Regions from separate parts of the Homo sapiens genome. Here all the other regions are linked to region 1. Evidence: fine-mapped expression QTL. A gene starts in region 1. Each other region holds a variant in brackets. All regions are shown on one strand. Distances are from middle to middle.

Region 1 (5,154 bases):
ATACTGCTAAGCTGTTATATTAAAAGAATAAATAGTCTCTCCAAAAAAAACCCCAATACGATTCCCACTCACAAGCAAGAACAAGAAGGGAAAATATTGGTGGGAAGGAAGCTAGATTGTAGGCTGAAGGTAATGGTGGGTACAGTAAAGGAATGCTCTAGTTAGGACTCCTGCAGGTCACTGAGTACCACCAATGGAAGTGACATTGAGTCTTGCTAAAAGATCCACCTGAAATATCATGCTTTGGTGAGCAGTGGTGGCATTATGAATCTTTGAAGGTCAAATGACATATAATCATTTTTCACATCTAACATTAACTTTTATAGTTTTGCTAACAGGCATACTTTCTAGCATAATAAATCACTGACTAAAGAACATTTGAAAGGGAGGAAAAAAGAGAAAACTCTAACAATAGTAAGAAAAAAAGCCCAGTGATAGTACCAAAAAATAAAGAAGGCAAAGGAAACAATGGATAAGCCATACCAAGAATTGATAGGGCCGGGTGTGGTGGCTCACACCTGTAACCCCAGCACTTTGGGAGGCCAAGGCAGGAGGATCACTTGAGCCCAGGAGTTCAAGACCAGCCTGGGCAACATAGTAAGATCTCATCTTTATTATAAAATAAATAAATAAGTAAATAAAAGAATTGATAGGTGTTGGAGTACAATATGAACTAGGTACCGAAACAGATGCTGCAAGGGAAATACCCAGGGCAGCAGTGATACCATCATAAAGAGCATAGAAAATAAAATATTTTAAAATGTATAATAGGTTGCCATAAACTTATATGAAAATGAAGACCATTGTCTATAAAGTGTTCACAGTTATAGGTAAAATTAGAAGAGGTGTCCAGTCATTATGCAACCCTTAATGGCAAACACTCCTTCTGTTTCTCCCGTCCTGGAGCCTCCTCTCCCTTCCTATTCTTCAGGGACTAGACCTGAAAGAAGAAATCCTGAAAGAGAACTGCAGACTTCATTGTGGGGTTTGTGCCAGGCACCTTTTGGTCTGTGGGGTCCTAAAATTCAGCTCCACCTCACATCTAGAGTCTCAAAATGATCCAGTCCCAGAGTTTGAAATTTTTCAGCCCAGAGTGGGATGTATTTTTCCAATTCATCAGCCAAAAGGAACTGACCTATTAATAATTCTCGCAAAGGCAAAAAGTGGCCCTGGGTACCACAGATCAATGACTGAGACATCTATTGTTGTCACTATAATTGCCATTATATATGTCATCTGTTTTCAGTTCCCTTTTCGTTTCCCATCCTTTGCTGTTTCCCTCTACCTATGTTCTAGGCTTGCACAAGTTCTGTTTGGCTCTGGCTGGCAGCACACACAGAGAGCTAGTTTGCTGACCCTTATTAATGACATCAGGATATATGTGGCTATATATAGCTTACCACTAACTACGTGTCAAGCACTTTGCTAAATGTTTTACAAGTAGGATCTAATTTAATTCTCATAGCAACCTTGTGACATTTTATCTCTATTTCACAAATGCAGAAACAGGCCCTAAAAGGTGAAGTATCCTGCCCAAGGTCATACAGCTAACAGCCCTCATAGCATAGATTTGAAACCTAGGTATCTGGCTTATCCCAAAGAATAATGTTCTTTTACATTAAGCAATAAAGCCTGTGCCCTAAAACCATACGGACTTGAATTCCAAACCCTAATGCCACCACTTACCAGTTGTGTAATTTGATGAATTATTCAACCTGAGTTTCCTGGAGAATGAAACAGAGTAACATCACTTTAATAAGTGCTTGGGAGCGTTAAATAACCTAACATATAAAAACTGTCTAGCACAGTTGTTGTGGGACATTGAAATCAAGTCACAATATTCAATCCCGCCCTTCCCTCTATTTGATTATCCATTATAGAGGTGGCCTCACAAAGACAACACTAAGGATATGCAAAAAGTGCAGATGATCATTAAGTGCAACATAAATGGTTGATCTGCTCGGTCCCAACGGGTTCTGGCCGTGCGCTTCCTCCACAATCCTGGTGTAGGGAACCCAAAACACTAGACAGAAGAATCTTGAAGCTGGAGGAGAAACGGGAGCTGCTAGACTACTTCTCACAATCTCCTTGTTTACCCTGAAATCAAGAGTCACCTCTTCCCACTCCATCTGCCAGCTTCTCGGGTGCTCTGAAGCGCGCGCCCCCCGCTCAACTGGGCATTGGCTTCACCACGGACGTGGTGTGGGTACCCTATCCCTCTCCCCGCGTGGTGCTGCAGCGATTTCGGGACCTGTCACCCTTCTCTGGGCCACAAGCCCGACCCTCTCCGCCCAGGGAAGGAGGGCGGATCCCAGCCTATCCCCAGCCCCAGGTGCGCGAGCGCCAGGCCCAGGCGGGGCCTTGCGGCCCGGAGCTGAGCCCCGAGCCCGGGCTCCTCCAGGAGGCGTCGGCGGTGCCTGGGTCCAGCCAGGCCGCGACCTAGCTCGGGAGCCTCCCCGCGACCTGCCGATCCCCAGCTGCGCGAAGCCCACGGAGCACTTCCAGCAGCAGGGCCCGGCGGGACCTGCCGCACGGAGCCTGCGGGCTCGGATCCTCCAGGCCAGGACTTTCCTTTTCCCCCGGGCGGTACGGTTGCTGGGCTGCTGCCTCACCGGCCCAGGAACTGGGAGACGCCCGCACTCACGTGGGAGTCTTAGAGGTGGAAGTCGAGCGACGGTGGAGAACAGGTTGGCAGCGTCCGGAGCGACGCTGGGACCGCAGGGATTCAGGAGAACCTAGGGCTGGACTGGCAGAGCAAGGGGGCGGGGAGGGGGCGGGGATGGGGCGGGTCCAGTGCGCGCCCGCCCCGCACAGCCTGCGCGAGGATCAGCCCATCCGCAGGGAGCTGACTCCGGGCTGCATGTCAGCTCCTTGCCAGTAGGCTGGCGCTTCGAGGCCATTCTGGAGGCCAGTCGCTTACTGAAAAGGCAAAACTGACTTTAAGGTAAGTGGTTTGGTGCACCAAAATAAATTCCTTAAGGATTAAATAATTTAAATATTTGAGAAAATTTATGCCATATCTGAACTGAGAAGACTGGGCGCAGTGGCTCACACCTGTAATCCAAACATTTTGGGAGGCAGAGGTGGGAGGATGGCTTGTGCCCAGGAGTTGGAGACCAGCCCCAGCCTGGGGCAAAAAAATGAGACCCCCTCCACCGCTACAAAAAGTAAAAAAAAAAATAGCTGGGCGTGGTGGCACGCGACTGTGGTCCTAGCTACACAGGAGGCTGAGGCAGAAGGATCACGGGCTCAGGCTGCAGTGCGCCATGTTCGTGCCTCTGCACTCCAGCCTGGGTGACAAACAGACCCTGTCTTAAAAAAAAAAAAAAAAGTTACCAAGACAAATTATCAACATGAAAATAGCGAAATACATCTTAGCTGTTAACCATGCTTATATGCTTATTTAGGGCATTCTTAATGTGCACACTACCAAGGACATTTTATATCCTTCATTACCTTTAATCCTCATGATTCTGTGATGTATTTGGTGCCAGTATACCCATTTTACAAATGAAAACTGCAATTGAGTAACATGAGATTTGGAAGCTAAATAATTGGCCTACTTTTCTGAAGTCACACAAATTGTAAGTAAACTAACCTCAAAGTGCAGGCTGGACTGCTTGCTACTCCATGCTGCCTGCAGCTAAACAAAACACTATGGAAAATATTGATACATGACTGCTCGATAATTTAGAACTTCTTCCCAAGGAAACAGGGACAAAATCAATAAAACACATTGGGAAAAATATTGGTCCCAAACCTGACAGAGTTAGTATCTTAAGTTCATTTATTTTTTATTTTTATTTTTTTGAGACGCAGTTTCGCTCTTGTTGCCCAAGCTGGAGTGCAATGGCGCGATCTCAGCTCACCACAACCTCCGCCTCCCGGGTTCAAGCGATTCTCCTGCCTCAGCCTCCTGAGTAGCTTGGGATTACAGGCATGTGCCACCATGCCCAGCTAATTTTGTATTTTTAGTAGAGCCAGGGCTTCTCCATGTTGGTCAGGCTAGTCTTGAACTCCCGACCTCAGATGATCCACCCACCTTGGCTTCCCAAAGTGCTGAGATTACAGGTGTGAGCCACCGTGCCTGGCCTCTTAAGTTCATTTAAATTGATAAGAAAAAAAAAAACACCCAATAGAAAAATGGGTGAAGGTTTTTTTTAATTACAGAAGAAATGGAAAGGGTATCAAATGAAGAAACACAGACATTCTTAAGTAAAAACTTTACTCTTAATCCAAGAAATGCAAACTAAACATTTTTATTTTATTTATTTTTAAGAAATGGGGTCTCACTATGTTGCTCAGGCTGGTGTTGAACTCCTGGGTTCAAGTGATCTGCCAGCCTTGGCCTCCCAGAGTGCTGGGATTACAGGTGTGAGCCACCGTGCCTGGCCTGCAAATTAAACATTTTTAAAATCGTATCAGTGCCAGTGAGGATTCATTCATTTATTCAACAAACACTATGTGCATTGCTCTAGACTTGTGAGCAAGACAGACAGGAACTTCTATCCTAGAGGACGGTTGAATCTTAAGTTAGTTGTTAAAGACAAATGAGATTTCAGCCAGCCAGAAGTGCCATGAGAAAAGTTAAGGCAGGGTGATGTGATAGAGGGACTTGAGGATAGTGTGAGCTTATTTAGACTGGGGATCTGAAAAGAGCTCTCTAAGATGGTATTTGATCTGAGATTTGAAAAATAAGCAGCAGCCAGTTATGCAAATATCTGGGGCACAGGAATGGTAGCAGGGGCAAAGATAAGAACAAACTGCCAGTGCAGAAACAAGGCCTTTGTTGCTGAAGTGTACTGGGGAGGTACTACAAGTGTTTTAGTTTTTACTAAAGGTTTCTGGCTCTATTTTTGATTCTACTTTCACATGTAAATGAAGGTTCTTAGGCACCACTAATTGGATTGCAAGTTTCAAATTTTCCAGAATATATAGTATCCATACCTAACCTTCAAAACTTTTCTTTACACTAAAATAGGGAAAGAGTAGAGGCAAGGGGATGGTTTTGTACTTTTAGTATCCAAACAGCAATCTATCATCTAAATACATAGTGCCATAGCTATTCAATGTATTTATTCATTTTCCTTAACTACAGTCTAAATCCCATTCTACTTTTGTTCTCATTCATTCACCCATTAATTTAACATGTGT
Region 2 (5,154 bases), 47 kb before region 1:
AGGGGAGGCTGGGTTTTCAAGAAGGGGCAACGGCAAGTGCAAAAGCCCTGAGCCAGGAATATGCCAGGCATATTCAAGTAAGAGCAAGAAAGCCCATGTGGTTGGAGTGAATGACAATGCAGAGATTAGTAGAAAAGAAGTTTAGAAAAGGAAAGAGCAGGAGGGGCCAGACCATCGAGACACTGAGAAGTTGGTAGGATTTGTGATTGAAGGCATGGAGGGAGACTTGTTAGAGTTGTGGTACTAAAGGGAGTGAACTGCAAAAGTGGTTGTTATTGAAAAACTGAATACTTGAAAATGCGATCAGGGAGGGTTTTTTTTAAATCAATAACGATAAGGTCTAGCATATGACCTTCAGAATGTGGGCTGAGGTTGAATAGAGAGCAGTATTATTATAAGGAGGGATAGAGAGTGATCTAATCTAATGATGCAAGATTCAAAGCCAGAGGTTTTAAAGAGGAGGGAAAAGCTCTCTGAAAGCAGAAGGGAGGATCAAGGAGGGTACCTACGCAGCCTCCAAGCCCAGGGGTAGATCAGGAAGAGGAAATTACCATCACTTGAGAGGGCAGCAGAGGAAGCAATGTTCTTCAAGAGAGGCAGGTTTTAATTAGAATTAAAAGGTGAAGGGACTATTCAGAAAAAAACATTGATATCAGAAATTTCTGCTAATGAACGACCCAGTTCTTGAGGGCAGAGTGGAAGGGTATGGGGCACTGGAGAGAAGTGGGATATGGAGTCAGAATACAGGGGTTGGAAACTAATGGTCTGGGCTTCTTGTGAGGACTGGCATGAACAGTGATCACAGGATGGTAGTGGAGAGCAATGAATGATAGCAGGATGGGCAGGAGAAGCATCTTTCCAGAAGCAGCATTCAAGGGACCCTCTTTCCTCATCACCATGGATGCCTGAAGGCACAAGAAGGGCCAGTCTTACTCCAACACAGCAGAGTCCCTCACCTTGCTCACTCTTGTTCTGTTTAACATATATACTGTCTCCTTTTCCATATTAGATCATAAGCTTTGAAGTCAGCAAGAATTTTTTTACTCTGTTTGAATTCCCCTGTTGATTGCCAGTAATAGACTACCCAATAAATATTTGTTCAAAGAAAAATTGAATACTTCTTACTGAAAGGAAGGGATGGTTGAAAAAAGCAAATTATTTCCTACTCAGACTTTTCTCTGAGAACTCCTTAAAGCTCCCCATCCTTGAAATTCTTCTGATTCCAGTCCTAGAAGACCAGGTGCTGCTATAAAACTTGGTGCTTTGTGAGCACCAATAAATGCTTTGTAAGCATCTGCTGATGAAAGACCAGAGATAGCTCTCCTTTCCCAAGCAGTAAGAAGTCACAATTCTGCTTATAATAATACTTTCCATCATTTTGGAGGAAGGAATCAACAGCCAAGCCAAAGTGTAATTCTGTATGGACATTTCAAACTACTGTGGTTTTTCTGGAGAATCTGGCCAAATGTAGTGATGATCAGGAAGTGATGTTATTTGGTGACAAGTGACAAGGGTGATGGTCTTGCTACATGCAAGGGTTTGGCATTCCTGAAGACATATTATCACCAGGTCTGAACCAGCCTCTGCACCATTAAGGAACCAACAAGATACGGGTCTACCAGACAATTTGATAGTGAGGCAGGAAAAGCTCAGAATTTGGAAACAGACCTAGAATCAGACACTTAGAAAGTATGTGACCAAACAGCTGAGTGTCTGCCAGAAGGTGACCACTATCAGCTCTGCCATCTGGCCTTCACCAAGGCAAAGCCATTGCGACTAGACCCACATTTGGTCACAGGGTTCCATGTGGAACTCTGTGGGCTTCTGAACTCATCTGTCTGCCCTAAAAAGTATGGTCCTCTGGTTTTTCAAATGCACAAATATAATCACATCATTCATTTGCTTAAATCAATTTAGTGGCATCCCATTACCCTAAGCCTCAGTCTGAACTCCCTTACCTGCCCCAAAAGGCCCTCAGGATGTAAACACCACCAACCACTCCACCTCATTTCTTTTACCACTTTCCCTCTTATACTTTATATTTCAGCAAACTCAAACTTCTGTCCACTCCTA[G/A]AACATTCAACTCTATACTTGCTGTTGGCCTGACAGCTTCATAAGTGCTTTTAACCTTCTTCACCTAGCTAACTTTCAGGTCTTAGCTTACATGGCACATCCTCAGGGAAGTGCTCCTTGCCTCTCAGATGGGTTAGGTCTCTCTCTACTGTATGTTGTTTCACGCACAGATCTCACATCTCTATAATTACTTGCTCAATGTTTTCTCTCCCCCACTAGACCATTATTTCTACAAAGGCAGCAATCGTGGCTGTCTTGGTTACCACTGGCAAAGTCCTGCCCAATGCCCATGACAAAAGCAATTAAAACATTTTTTTTAAAATTAGGTGGTTACACTATCCTTCTTAACATGATTGATAATCTCAGGCCATTCTAGCTATAAGCTAAGAATCTTTCCTTTACTGTACCCAGAAGAGTATCTTGGACCCACTCAATATCTTTTAAACAAATAAATCCCATAAAATAATATCCCCCAAATTGTTTAATTCAGTAAAATATGAAGTCAAAGGCCACCTAAAACACTATATTTTATTTTTAACTTTTCTATTGTTTTGGTCACATGTAAAGAATAAAAATGAAAACACACTACTCTGTCACATCAAGAAATAACTTTATCCAAAAGGAATTCAAATGTAAGATATATTTAGCATCAATTCATATATTAGTAACTTACACATGTATTGTCAAGTATGACATCCATAAAAGCACAAAACAGTTTCTAACACGTTCCATCAAACTTCTGGCGTACTTTATGTGTCATTTCCATGACTACTAACCACATATATAGAGACTAGGGGATACTTAGTGAAGACAGCTTTCCAGGAAGTTTACAAAATTGAAGAAAAAAAAAGTATGTCCAAATATGGCATAAGTAGCAATGGGGCCCTGAATTTACTTTGGAAAGATTGCCTAAGGCACCACTATAATGAACAGTTGTAAATCTCTGATCAGACTTCAAATTTTTCTGGTCTTAAAATTGCAATTCTAACCACAAGGTTAGGTGACTAGATTAGCTGGTATATTATTTCCTCTGTGCCAGCATCTGTAAGAAATATTACATCTATCCTGGGCACCGTCACTCCGATATATATTTGTAATAGATCTGATTATATGAGGTGTGAAAGTCAATATGGGTAATTTTTCTTTAAATGCATTTTAAGAACAAACAGCACTTAAATGAATGGTGGCACAACAGGGAAAAGGACTATTTTAATGTAAAACAATATTAAATCAGCGTATGATGAGGTTGAGTGCTGAAACTGTGAAAACTGATAATTTAGAAATTGTAAATGCTTTTATTCAAAACTGTAAAAAGGCACCAATTACCCTAGTTTGCTGGAATCACAGTTCTTATGAATAATAGCATCTACTGATGAACATGATCATGAATTAAATGTTTTAAATTTTAAAACAATTTTAAAATAGAATAATTCTGATAAAATCAGAATATAAAATAATGAAGACCAAATCCAATTGACAGTGATTACCTGTTATTTGGCTGAAGAAAACCAGGAATGCTCATAACCAGCAGTTCCCAAGCACCTTGTGCAGGTGACTCAGGGGCTGCTGTGGAGCTGGTTAAGGAGAAGGAGGATATGCCCAGTGACTGGGACCCTGCCACAGCATCAAACAGATAAGCTCACTTCTGTCTGTTTTACTGTACATTGAGAATATGTGTAAGTCATTTTTTAAAAGGCTTCTTGTGATTAAAAGAGAAAATTCTGAAAACCACAGCAACATATCTATGCTGTTTCCAAGCATACAAAGAGAATTAGAACATCTGAGACAACTATGGCTCCAAACAATCAGAAGAAGGGTTAGTTTTCTTTTCTCCTATTGATAATGTCAAAATGATGTGTCATCTATTGAGCCATACTATGGAGTAGCAGGCTACTAGTTAGATGCCTTCCCCAGTTAACAGCACATATCCAAAGGACAGCTAGCCAAGTGGGAAGGTGGTAGGTAAATGCTCATCTGGGCTAGGCAACCACCACAGCAAGCAGGTCCCCTCTCAGCCTGGCCTTGGCAATGAGCTGCTTCTGAGAAGCCACAGCTATCTGTGGTTGAGAGCTCACTCCCTTGAGGCATTGCAGAGAACAAGAGACATGGGCTGTGGGGCAGCTTTTCAATAAAACTGAGAGGCACATCAACATGGCACTGTATGTGTCCACTTAAGGATATATGATAAACATGCAATTTCAAAAGGTAAATTATTAAAGATAATTGGCCAATATATAGATATGCATAGTTTTTAGCACATAGGCCCTCAATAAAATATTAGGATCTATTCTGAAAATGTAATGTTCACTAAGTAATACGCTGTAAAAGGTAAAAGTCAGGAAAAGAAATTCAACTCTTAAAAAAAAAAAGCACATAAAATCCACCCTATCTTAATGCAGCAGTTGGAAAAGTTTTCTTTTTTCTTTCCTTTTTCTAAGTTGCAGTAGGTTTTATACCTAATAAGGTATGCTGTAGACATAGGAAATATCACATTATTAAATTGTAAAATGCAATTTTGATTAACAGATAACTGGTATCGTGAGTTTAAAAATCAGATGAAAATGGTTCTTAAAAAAAGGAGAAAATGACTAAGTGGATCTGTACAAATCAATATATGGGACCTTAGCAAGGAAAGTATAAAATTTTTTTTTAGTAAGCAGTTTTTCATTAGTTAGAAGGAAACGGAATTCTGAATTTCACCTTATATGTTTGGTCCTCTTATCTTTCCTGGACAAAACAGTCCTAACCGTTTTAACAAATCTCAATTAAAGTAATCTAATAATGTAGAATTCAGGACAACCTACCATCTGTGCATCTACAATATCCTGAAAGTCTTGCTCAGTTAATGAAAAAAAAAGCCAAATCTGACCATGTTTACAGTTTTCCACAATAAAATAAAATATCTAGAAAGGCAAATAAAAATGGCTTACTTACATGAGGTTATTTTTACTTGTTGATTGTACATTTAAAAAACTGAGTATGTGCCTTTTCCTGCTCATTCAGTACTTTTCATAAAGTCCCAAGTTGAGTGCATGCTGTTTTGTAAACCACAGTGTCTAAACTGTAGCAAAAATCAGATGC
Region 3 (5,151 bases), 60 kb before region 1:
CAGAAAGCTATTACTCAGGTGTTCAGACTTACAGGCCTACACTAAGCTGCCTTTCAATTCCTAAAAATGTAAAGAAACTCAAATGTTATTGTTTCTCTCTCTCTCTCTCTTTTTTTTTGGTTTCATATTTCTTTGATTCTCATAATTAGCCTATGAGGGCAGATATTGAGAAACAGACAGAGCAGGGATTCAGGTTTTCTGAACCTAGTCATTATGTTATCTCTAAAACTGTAGAAATGGGTAGCTGTGGACCTTTCAGAAAATAAGTAAAGCACATATTATAAAGTCAGTCACATACAAAAGATGAAAACTTGCATTTTCCTTTTCCACACATACAACACTGTGGTGAAAGTTAGGGATCCAGTATAAACCAAATGCTTCATTTGCATCAGCATAGAAATAATAATTTGCATAAAAAATGTATGGGAGTAAAGAAATATATAAGTAAATGTGTTAAGAATCTCAACTTTATCTGTGCACATTCATATGTCAGGCAAGCCTTTCTCAAATTGATCCCAAGCATTACCAGTAAAGAGCATAGTGTACCTTTTGCTATGAAATTTCTATAGCTAGTGCTAAACACGATAGGTACAAACATGACAGGTCAAGCACCTGTGGGACAAATGGAAAAGATCATACTAGGAAAGGGATAAGTTTCTCCCTGAGGTTCTCCCACAAGCTTAGGCAAGAGGAAAACCCTACTTTTTACAGTATTTTTATATAGTATTGGTTAATATGTTTTTATTAAAAATAAATATTTAAAATTTTATCTCTACAGAATAAGTAAATATTTAAAAAGCAAAAACAGAGTCCTGAGCACTGAGTCTAATAATTCAGAGAGTATAAGGACCAATAGGAAGAGAATTCCTTGGCAGAGACAAAAAAATGCAATTCAGACTAACATCATGAGTCAAAGGCAACAAGTCCATTCTCTAGCACACCAGAAACTTCATCAAATGATAGTCAGAAGCAAAGCAGACATGATTCCTGGATTCACTTAATTCAGACAGTCTGTCTTGGTGGTGATCTTAGCCATTGCATGCTAATCAAAATCTAATCCAATGTTTTTAATTACGATTTCAACACCAGTTCTTTGTAATTGCTCCTTCCAGAAGAAAGAAAATTCTGAAGGAGGAGAGGAAGAAGGAAAAGAAAATGAAGATAAACAAAAAGAAAATGAAGATAAACAAAAAGAAAATGAAGATAAAGGAAAAGAAAATGAAGATAAAGATAAAGGAAGAGAGCCAGAAGAGAAGCCACTGGACAGACCTGAATGTACAGCAAGTCCTATTGCAGTGGAGGAAGAACCCCACTCAGTTAGAAGGACAGTTTTACCCAGAGGGACTTCTCGTCAATCACTCATTATCAGCATGGCTCCTTCTGCTGAGGGCGGAGAAGAGGTTCTTACTATTGAAGTCAAAGAAAAGGCTAAGCAATAAATGTTTGATTATCTTTAGATGTGATATAGCTAGTTCCCAAAGTGATTGTACCTAGGATTGTAACTTAAATTAACGAGGGGAAACGACATGCTGGGACCCTTGAGAAACGAAAGGCAAATCCCTAGCTTAGTTTCTAGGACTTATCTGAGAGTGTGATTTCATGCAGTGGTAATAAGAAGATTATTAAAAGCCATCCCTATTCTCCGTTTTCATTAACTTTATGCAATTGCTATATCTTCTAATTGTATGTAGTAAGTTTCCTTTTCCTTTGGTTCTTTCCTGATGATGTCTCTTCCTTCCAGTTTTATTAGCTTGCTCTTGGCTGTGATGTGATTCACTAACCTTTTCTCTTAATTTTTATTGTGTTTAATTTCTTCTTTGGCACTCTAAAGCCTGGCTAATTGTTCTAGGTTTATGAATTTCACCTCTTACATGTAAAGGGTATAAGATTTTAATGTAATAGGTCAAAAATCAGATTATTTTCATTCAAATGAGGATGATGAGTCACTGTAATATCAAAAAATCCCCAGCAGCTGGGACTGAAGGGAAGCAGAGATCATGAAGCTTTCTGAATGAGAAGTCTGATTTTTGGAACAGTCCCCTGAAGACCAATGTTGGTCGGCAGAATTAGCAAACTGGCAAAATCACATTGCAGGAACATATTGGAAAAATTGTACCCTTTACTAAAGAAATAAACTTCAATATTTTCTCTTCTAACCAACTTAAAAGACACCAATCTACCTAACTCATCTGGCTCAAGGGACTTGGACTGGAGGATACAGGCTAAAGTGACACTTATCAGAATCTTCCTCAAGCACTTGCTGGAAAAGATATCAGATTGGAACTTCTTGTTTAAAATTAAGCTTTAGTAAAACAAAGTGATGAGGTTAGGAAGGCAGACTCTACACATGTCAGATTGACATATCCCCACAATTTCCGGAACCTACATGTATAGCTGTTTACAAAATCTCCAAGTTAATTAAGGGCACTTTAGGAAGTTGTCCTCATGAATTAGCTAGCATTAGCATAATTACCGACGTTGCATGCTGTGAGGAGGCTACAAAGGCCAGGCTGGTGTCGGAAGTAATAATACATATAGAATTCCATTCTAATAAATGCCATTAGTGTATAACATCAAGTTCTGTGTAATGAGGCTATTTCCAAGTCTCCAAAGATGGTCACTGTAACAGCACTTTGCTGAGAGGGTTTTAACAAATCATATTAGCCAAAAAGCCTACAACATAGATGCATTTAGCAAACCATGTACAAATCAATCACTATAATAAACTGCATCATTTGATA[G/A]AGTCACCGTTTTTGCATGTAGTGTTAGAGTATCACAAAATATAACAAGTTTTACTAAAGGATGGTTGGTTTTTTCAGGATTTAAGGGAATATGGACAAATTGTTAAATAGTATTTATTTGATAAATGGGAGTTTGTATGCAGAAAGAGTGAATTGCGTATAAAAAGGGTGATTTAAAAACCCAGAAACAAAAGGTAGAATAGGGCTGAAGCATCTGATAATAGGAAAAGAAAAGGACAAAAGTCCTCAACTTGTGAGCAATATGCTTTCCCTTTACACCCTGTAATTTATTCAAATGATATTAAAATACAAGACCATTGCAATTTATGCTTTTCGCCTGGCAGTTATTTTCCCCCCCAAGCTATCCTGTTTCAGATAATATCAATTTATTTCCAATCCATCAGACTAAAATCTAAGAAAATTCAAGAACTCTTTTATTGTTGATTTGGTGCCACCAAATTCTTTTTCTTTTTAAATCTTTCTAATTATCCTTTCTTTTTCAATCCCATTGCTAACACCCAGAACATATTTTCTGTTCAATGCAAATAAACATTCACTTTTTACCTATAGTCTGCTCTTGTCACTGGTCTGCCCTCTTAGTCCCTTTGCTATTGGAAAATAAAATCTTTCTAAAACCCTACTTTTGACCATGTTACTTCCCTGCTCAGTGGCTGTATTAGAGTTTTCCAGAGGGAGAAAAAAAAAATAGGGGATATATATCTATCTCAGGCCATTGGATTCAGACTGGAACTTAGACCACTGGTTCTTCTGGTTCTGATGCCTTCAGACTCAGACTAAAATTATACAACGGGCTTTCCAGGGACTCCAGTTTGTAGATGGTAGATCATGAGACTTCTTTTCCTTCATAATTTCATGAGCCAATTCCTTATAATAAATATATTTAAATATATATTATATATTACAAATATGTGTAGAGATTTATTATATATTTTAATATATATCATATAGAGATATTTATCATGTTTTTTATTTATATATTTTATATATACATGATTTATTATTAGGAATTGGCTCACACAATTGTGAAAGCTGAGATGTTCCATGATCTGCAGTCTTTAAGCTGGAGACCCAAGAGAGCTGGTGGTGTAGCTCTAGTCTGAATCCAAAGGACTGAGAATTAGGAGAGCTAATGGTAAAGGTTGCAGCCTGAGACAGGAGAAGATTAATGTCCCAGGATGAGCAACCAGGCCAAGAGAGCAAATTCTCCCTTCCTCCATATTTTTGTTCTATTCAGGCCCTCAACAAACTGTATTATGCCCACCTACATTGGGGAGGGCAACCTGCTTTACTCTGTCCACCAATTCAAATGCTGATCTCATCCACAAACATACCCAGAAATAATGTTTTACCAGCTATCTGGGCATCCTGTGGCCCCATCAAGTTGACACAAAAAACCAATCATCACAGGAACCTACTAGTCCTCCTACCAGTTAAATCCTATTTATACAAATTTAATTTCCACTACCCTAACCATATCCTCCACTTAAGTGGGTCTCCTTGCTTTTTCTCTGGAACAAATACCTGCCCTTCTTCCTCTGGCCTTTGTCGCTGCTGCCTGCCTTACTCTGGAAGGTTGTTGTCTCTCCTCCGTCACTTACCTCTGTCCTATACTTCCAACTCTGCTCACATTTTCTGTCTCCCAACTGCCTCTAAAAACATCAACCTATGATGGTTCTATCTCACGGGATTATCTTTTGTACTTTCAGGAAGTGCCACATAGTACAGCATGTCCTCTAATTTCCTCTTAATTGTAAATTATTTCTGCTTAATTATAAATTATAAGAAGGCAACTAGCTCTTGTGCTTTCTTTGCATAATGACAAAAAGCCCAGTTTTTTAAAGGGAGAGAGAATATGAGTAAGTAATTCATGGAAGAAAAACAAATAAGCAATTGACAGAGAAAAGGTGCTTGACTTCACTTGTGCTCAAAGAAATACAAATCAGAACAAAATGGAATACCACCTTATACCCATCTAACTGGAAAAATACTTGAAAGCAGATAATAGTGCCAAGTGCTGGCAAGTGTGTACACTGGCTCTACTATTTTAGCAATCTTAGCAAAATTTTGGCAGCACACCTTAGAACTCAGCAGTACCATTTCAGAGTATATATGCCAGAAAATTCTTAAGCAGGTCCATAAGAGGAAATCCATGAGGATATATAGCATTGTTTATAGTACAAAGGAATTGGAGGCAACTCTAATATCTACCTCTAGGAGAATGGGAAAAAAAATATGGTGTGTGGGAGTATAGTTGTGTTTGTAAGATGAAGTTCTATCCAGCAGTTAGAAGTAATGAATTAGATTTACATAAAGCAAAAAGGATAGATATTTTTAAAATACTAGTATAGTTTGTTTAAAAGAAAAAAGAATGAAATCTTCAGTAATACCA
Region 4 (5,154 bases), 53 kb before region 1:
CTCTGTCTCAGGGATTGAACCACCAAGATCTGTGCAAGGAATCTAGGCTTTGGGAGAGCTCAAAGCTATAAAATCAACAGTGGGCTTCATATACCCCTCTCTCCACATATCAAAGGCATGCTGCCTAACCAATTAGATCACTAGAAAACCTTTAGTGAAGAAACTGACTCGGAGTCGCCAGAGTTTAGCACTTTAAACACCGCATTATTCTCACTGCCCTTATCTTGGCCAAGAGTTAAAATCCAGACATCCAGGGGTCCCCAGAGATAATAGGTGAGCTTTTCCCTACTTCTTTCTTTCCCTACTACTGCTAATCCACATATATCTCTTCTCTGGACTCCCTATAGTCCATGTTCATTAATCATTTGACTAATTAATTGATGATTTATAGATACAGCAGGTCCTCAAGTAATGTAGTTACATACAATGTCGTTTTGTTATAACATGAGTGAGAAAAAAATAGATTCCTCTCTACAGCCACTGTCTGCATGGATTTTGCACGTTCTTTTCATGACTGTGTGGGTTTCTCCAGTTTTCTCCTATGTCCCAAAGAAGTGCCTGTTAGGTGGGCTGCTGTGTCTAAATGGTCCCAGTCGGAGTGAGTGTGGGAGTGTGTTTGTGTGTGTGTGTGGGTGTGTGTGTTTGTGAATGTGGGTGTGTGTGGGTATGTGTGTGTGTGTGGGCATGTGTGATTGTGTGGGTGTGTGTGAGTGTGCATGTGTGTGAGTGTGTGGGTGTGTGTGAATGCACCCTGTGATGGATGGCATCCTTTCCAGGGTCAGTTCTTACCTGTGTCCTTCACTGCTGGGATATTCTTAGGTCACCTGAGACTCTGAACTGGAATAATTGAGTAAGTAATTATCTTGTTTTAATTAATCTTTCCTAAATGTGCGTACAGCTCACACTTATTTCAATGTTTAATATTATAGGTGTCTTGGTCATTATTTTGAAGTTTGGTGATGTTTTTATGACCAGAAATATGCCATGGGAACTTAACTCTTGTTTATACTAATCAGCCTATGGTAAAATTGGTTAATGTCAAGTGAAGACTTATTATATATGAAAGTTCTTCCCAGACCAGGTCTTTCCTCACTGCCCAGGTCTGACCTCGACAATTAATCACCAGAAATACAGTGCAGCATGGGCTGGTTAAAAGAGATGTATCATGATAAGATCTGCAGAGAAAGAAGGAAGAAGCCACTCAGCAGAGGTTCTATATTTTAAATCTTAAATAGTTAAAGAAGGAAAACAATATCTCTATAAGAAGTAATTTTTTCACCCTGTGGGCACAAGTGTTTATTTCAACAAGCAATTTCCTCTGATTCACTGAAGCCATTCCAAGTGTTATTTGCTCAAAATTGATTATAATATCACCTTCTATTTCACTTTTATCTGTGGCCTCCAAAACTCAGCACAACCTATAAGCTGTCCTCTGGTCTTAAAAATGCCCAGCTCTATTTTGCATTGTCAAACTACATTAATTTGCTTTTGCTAACTAAAATGTAGTAAGTTAAAATAATCATTTATTAGCTCCTGAATCATTTATTGGTTTCTATAGATTGCCAATTTGAGCTCGTTCTTCTGGTCTTAGCTGGGCTAATTCATGCTCTATAGTCAGCTGCCGGATTGACTGGGGGCTGGCTGGTGTAGAACAGTCTCAGGACAGTCTCAGATGGGACAGCTTTTTTCTAACCACATGGTCTGTCATCCTGAAAATGGGTACACTGGGTGTGGAGACTGCACAAGGTTCTGAGAGGAGACAAAGCAGAAGTGAGCCAGGCTCTTGAGGCATAGGCTCAGAATTCACACATCATTATGTCTACACATTCTATTAGCCAAAGTAAGTCACAAAACCAGCCTAGATTAAAGGGGTAGAGAAATGAAATCCACTTCTTAATGGGGGGACAGCAAAGTCACATTGCAAAAGGAGTGGATCCAGAGGCAGCGGAAGGATTCTGGCCATTTTTCAATCTATCAAACAGAATTGTCACATAAAACACAGGACACTCAGTTAATGAATCCTTTTTTTTTTTTTTTTTTTTTTTTTTGAGATGGAGTCTCACTGTTGCTCAAGGCTGGAGTGCGGTGGCACGATCTCAGCTCACTGCAACCTCCACCTCCCGGGTTCAAGCGATTCTCCTGTCTCAGCCCCCCGAGTAGCTGGGATTACAGGCGTGTGCCATCACGCCTGGCTACTTTTTGTATTTTTAGTAGAAACGGGGTTTCACCATGTTGGCCAGGCTGGTCTCAAAGTCCTGACCTCAGGTGATCTGCTCACCTCAGCCTCCCAAAGTGCTGAGATTACAGGCGTGAGCCA[C/T]CATGACCAGCCTGAATAATTTTTTAGTATAGATATGCTCCATGCCATAATTGGGACTTGCCTATATGAAAAAATATTCATTTTTGTCCAAAATTCAAATTTAACTTGACATCTTGTATTTTTGTTTGCTAAATCTGCCAACCCCACACAAGGACCACGTCAAAAATAAGCAAAACCTTTCTTTAAACAAGAGAGAACTTGGAACTAGAAATGACTTTTAAATTGCACAATTTCATCCAGGTGCAGTGGCTCACGCCTGTAATCTCAGCACTTTGGGAATTTGAGACCAGCCTGCCCAACATGGTGAAACCCCGTCTCTACTAAAAAAACAAAGAAACAAAAAGATTGGCTGGGCGTGGTAACATGTACCTGTAATCCCAGCTACTTGGAAGGATGAGACACAAGAAAAAAGAATCACTTGAACCCGGGAGGCAGAGGTTGCAGTAAGCTGAGATCGTGCCACTGCACTCCAGCCTGGGTGACAGAGCGAGACTCTGTCTCAAAAAAAAAAATTAAAACGCCAGGTCCGGTGGCTCACACCTGTAATCCCAGCACTTTGGGAGGCTGAGGGGGGTGGATCACTTGAGGTCAGGAGTTCCAAACCAGGCTGACCAACATAGCGAAACCCCTGTCTCTACTAAAACACAAAAAATTAGCCAGGCATGATGGTGCATGCCTGTAGTCCCAGCTACTCGGGAGGCTGAGGCAGGAGAATCGCTTGAACTTGGGAGGCAGAGGTTGCAGTGAGCTGACATCGCGCCACTGTACTCCAGCCTGGCGACAGAGCAAGACTCCATCTCAAAAATAAATAAATAAATAAATAAATAAATAAATAAATAAATAAATAAAATTAGCTGGGTATGGTGGCGGGTGCCTATAATCCCAGCTACTTGGGAGGCTGAGGCAGGAGAATTACTTGAACCAGGAGGCAGAGGTTGCAGTGAGCCAAGATCATGCCACTGCAATCCAGCCTGGGCAACACAGTGAGACTCTGTCTATAAACAAAGAAGGACTTAAAAAAAGAAAAATAAAATGAATTGCACAACTTCACCAATTGTAGTATTAGAATGGGCCGAAAGCTCTAAGTATACTCAAAGGAAAGGAGTAACTTGGTCCCCTCTTAACATAATATATAATAAGCTTATCGAACCTGCAGCCTGCAGGTCGTATGCAGCCCAGACAACTTTGAATGCAGCCCAACACAAATTTGTAAGCTTTCTTAAAACATTATGAGTTTTTTTGTAAATTTTTTTTTTTGGCTTATCAGCTACCATTAGTGTTAGTTTATTTTATGTGTGGCCTAAGACAATTCTTCCAATGTCACCCAGGGAAGCCAAAAGATTGAACACCCTTGATATATAAAAATCTATTTTATTTCAGTTGTATTAGATGAAAAATTGCTACACAGAAAACCAATAAGAGAAGAATCTGTACTTTTAGTAATTTGGACCTGTTCTATATTTACAATAATGCCTTTACCCACCTACGGGAATTTTTTAAATCTTTAGAAGGTGTTAATTAATCATTATGCTGTTCTGGAATTTATTATAACTAATCAGACCAAAGATACTTGAAACTGATATTTTAAGTACCATACCCACACGCTGTAGTAAAATTTGATGTTTTTCTCTATGGGTTTTTATGACTGACTGTATTTTTCCTACTATAACTTTTGTGACTAGAAGTGACGGTGCAAAGGTCAAATAAATGTGCATCATTAAGCAATGCAACCTGACATTTCTAGATAATAACTCCCTCGGATGAGGAAAGGGAGTGATACCTGAAAGGTCACAGCCCCCTTACTGTCCGTTTGCACCTCTAGTCATCTCTGCCCAATGCACACAATGATTCTGCCACAAATTTATGAGAATCCTCTCTGCTGGGAATCCTAAGCAATACAGAATTCAGCATATAGTGTATGCTAAGGGTTATTAACTGGGCTCGTGATACAGCTTCTTGCATCCAGCTTTGAATAAATCAAGCTCTGTTGTTTACACCAGAATCTTAGACTTGCAAGGGAATTTAACGATTCCTACCCCAAGTCCCATTTTACAAAACATTCGTGTTTTGTAATAAGACCCTTTGTCCAGGGCTACGCCAGAGTAAAGCAGAGTTCAAGGTCAAAAGATAACACATGCTTTTCAAACATGAAGCCCATGGAAAGGCTTGATAAAAGTAGCATCCACCTAAAGCAGGCCTTTTTCAAATAAACAAGTACATTTGCCAAGATTTTATGGGGTCAAATGATGATCAAGTCTGCCATGTTAGGACCATATTTATATTCCAAATCTGAGAGGAAAAATTCAGATTTAGCATGTCCTTCAGAAAAGGACTAACCACAGATTTCATTAAAATAGAAATATGTGTGGTCGGGCATGGTGGCTTATGCCTGTAATCCCAGCACTTTAGAAGGCTAAGGCAGGCAGATCACTTGAGGCCAGGAGTTTGAGACCCTGTCTCTATAAAAAATAAAGAAATAAAATATGTGGAAGATCAATATTGTTTGAATTTCAATATCACATTTGTAAAAGTGAATAAAGAGATTTAGTTATGAAACAAAACGGTTCATTCATACATTCATCTCCCTATACTAACAATGTTTCTCAACCCACGCTTTCTTAATCCATGCCACTGACAATGCCAATTTCTTTGCTGAAAGGCTCTTCCGCTTTCTCTACATTATAAAGCCCCATAAAACCTTTAAATCCCAGATGAAATGTCAAACCATCCATGAAGCTCTCCAAGATCTTCCCACTGCCCTGACGACTCTCCACATTGAATAGAAAATCTTCCCATTCTAAGCTTCAATATTTTCTCATATAAACTAACTTCTATCT

Alleles and levels. Positions count from the first base shown, and alleles are read on the strand shown. Sizes are in standard deviations (SD) of each study's normalised expression. Not every link is listed here.
As copies of A replace G in region 2, the expression in unexposed skin of the gene that starts at base 2,751 in region 1 goes up (small effect, 0.22 SD a copy in GTEx).
For the expression in skeletal muscle of the gene that starts at base 2,751 in region 1, allele T in region 4 goes with a higher level than allele C (small effect, 0.40 SD a copy in GTEx).

Evidence for each region. PIP is the estimated chance that this variant, and not a neighbour inherited with it, causes the effect. A credible set is the group of variants that fine-mapping cannot tell apart.
Region 2: its variant is the best candidate, but not a certain one, in a credible set for the expression of CPNE3 in unexposed skin (GTEx, PIP 0.82).
Region 3: its variant is the best candidate, but not a certain one, in a credible set for the expression of CPNE3 in whole blood (TOPMed, PIP 0.83).
Region 4: its variant is the best candidate, but not a certain one, in a credible set for the expression of CPNE3 in skeletal muscle (GTEx, PIP 0.84).

Annotation. Positions count from the first base shown.
Region 1 is chr8:86,512,032-86,517,185 of GRCh38, reverse strand. CPNE3 (copine 3) reads right to left here and starts at 2,751. Exons shown (of 17, transcript NM_003909.5): 1 at 2,645-2,751; 2 at 1,687-1,724. It also overlaps a transcript of RMDN1 not described here. RefSeq lists silencers at 2,243-2,582, 2,703-2,782.
Region 2 is chr8:86,558,926-86,564,079 of GRCh38, reverse strand. It overlaps CPNE3 (copine 3), which reads right to left. Exons shown (of 17, transcript NM_003909.5): 17 at 2,582-5,154. Among named protein-coding and RNA genes, the nearest start is that of CPNE3, 47 kb to the right of the region's middle. The variant G/A (reference allele first, on the strand shown) is at 2,074.
Region 3 is chr8:86,572,092-86,577,242 of GRCh38, reverse strand. CNGB3 (cyclic nucleotide gated channel subunit beta 3) reads left to right here. Exons shown (of 18, transcript NM_019098.5): 18 at 1,113-3,064. The coding sequence ends at 1,439. Among named protein-coding and RNA genes, the nearest start is that of CPNE3, 60 kb to the right of the region's middle. The variant G/A (reference allele first, on the strand shown) is at 2,742.
Region 4 is chr8:86,565,010-86,570,163 of GRCh38, reverse strand. No RefSeq gene overlaps it. Among named protein-coding and RNA genes, the nearest start is that of CPNE3, 53 kb to the right of the region's middle. The variant C/T (reference allele first, on the strand shown) is at 2,318.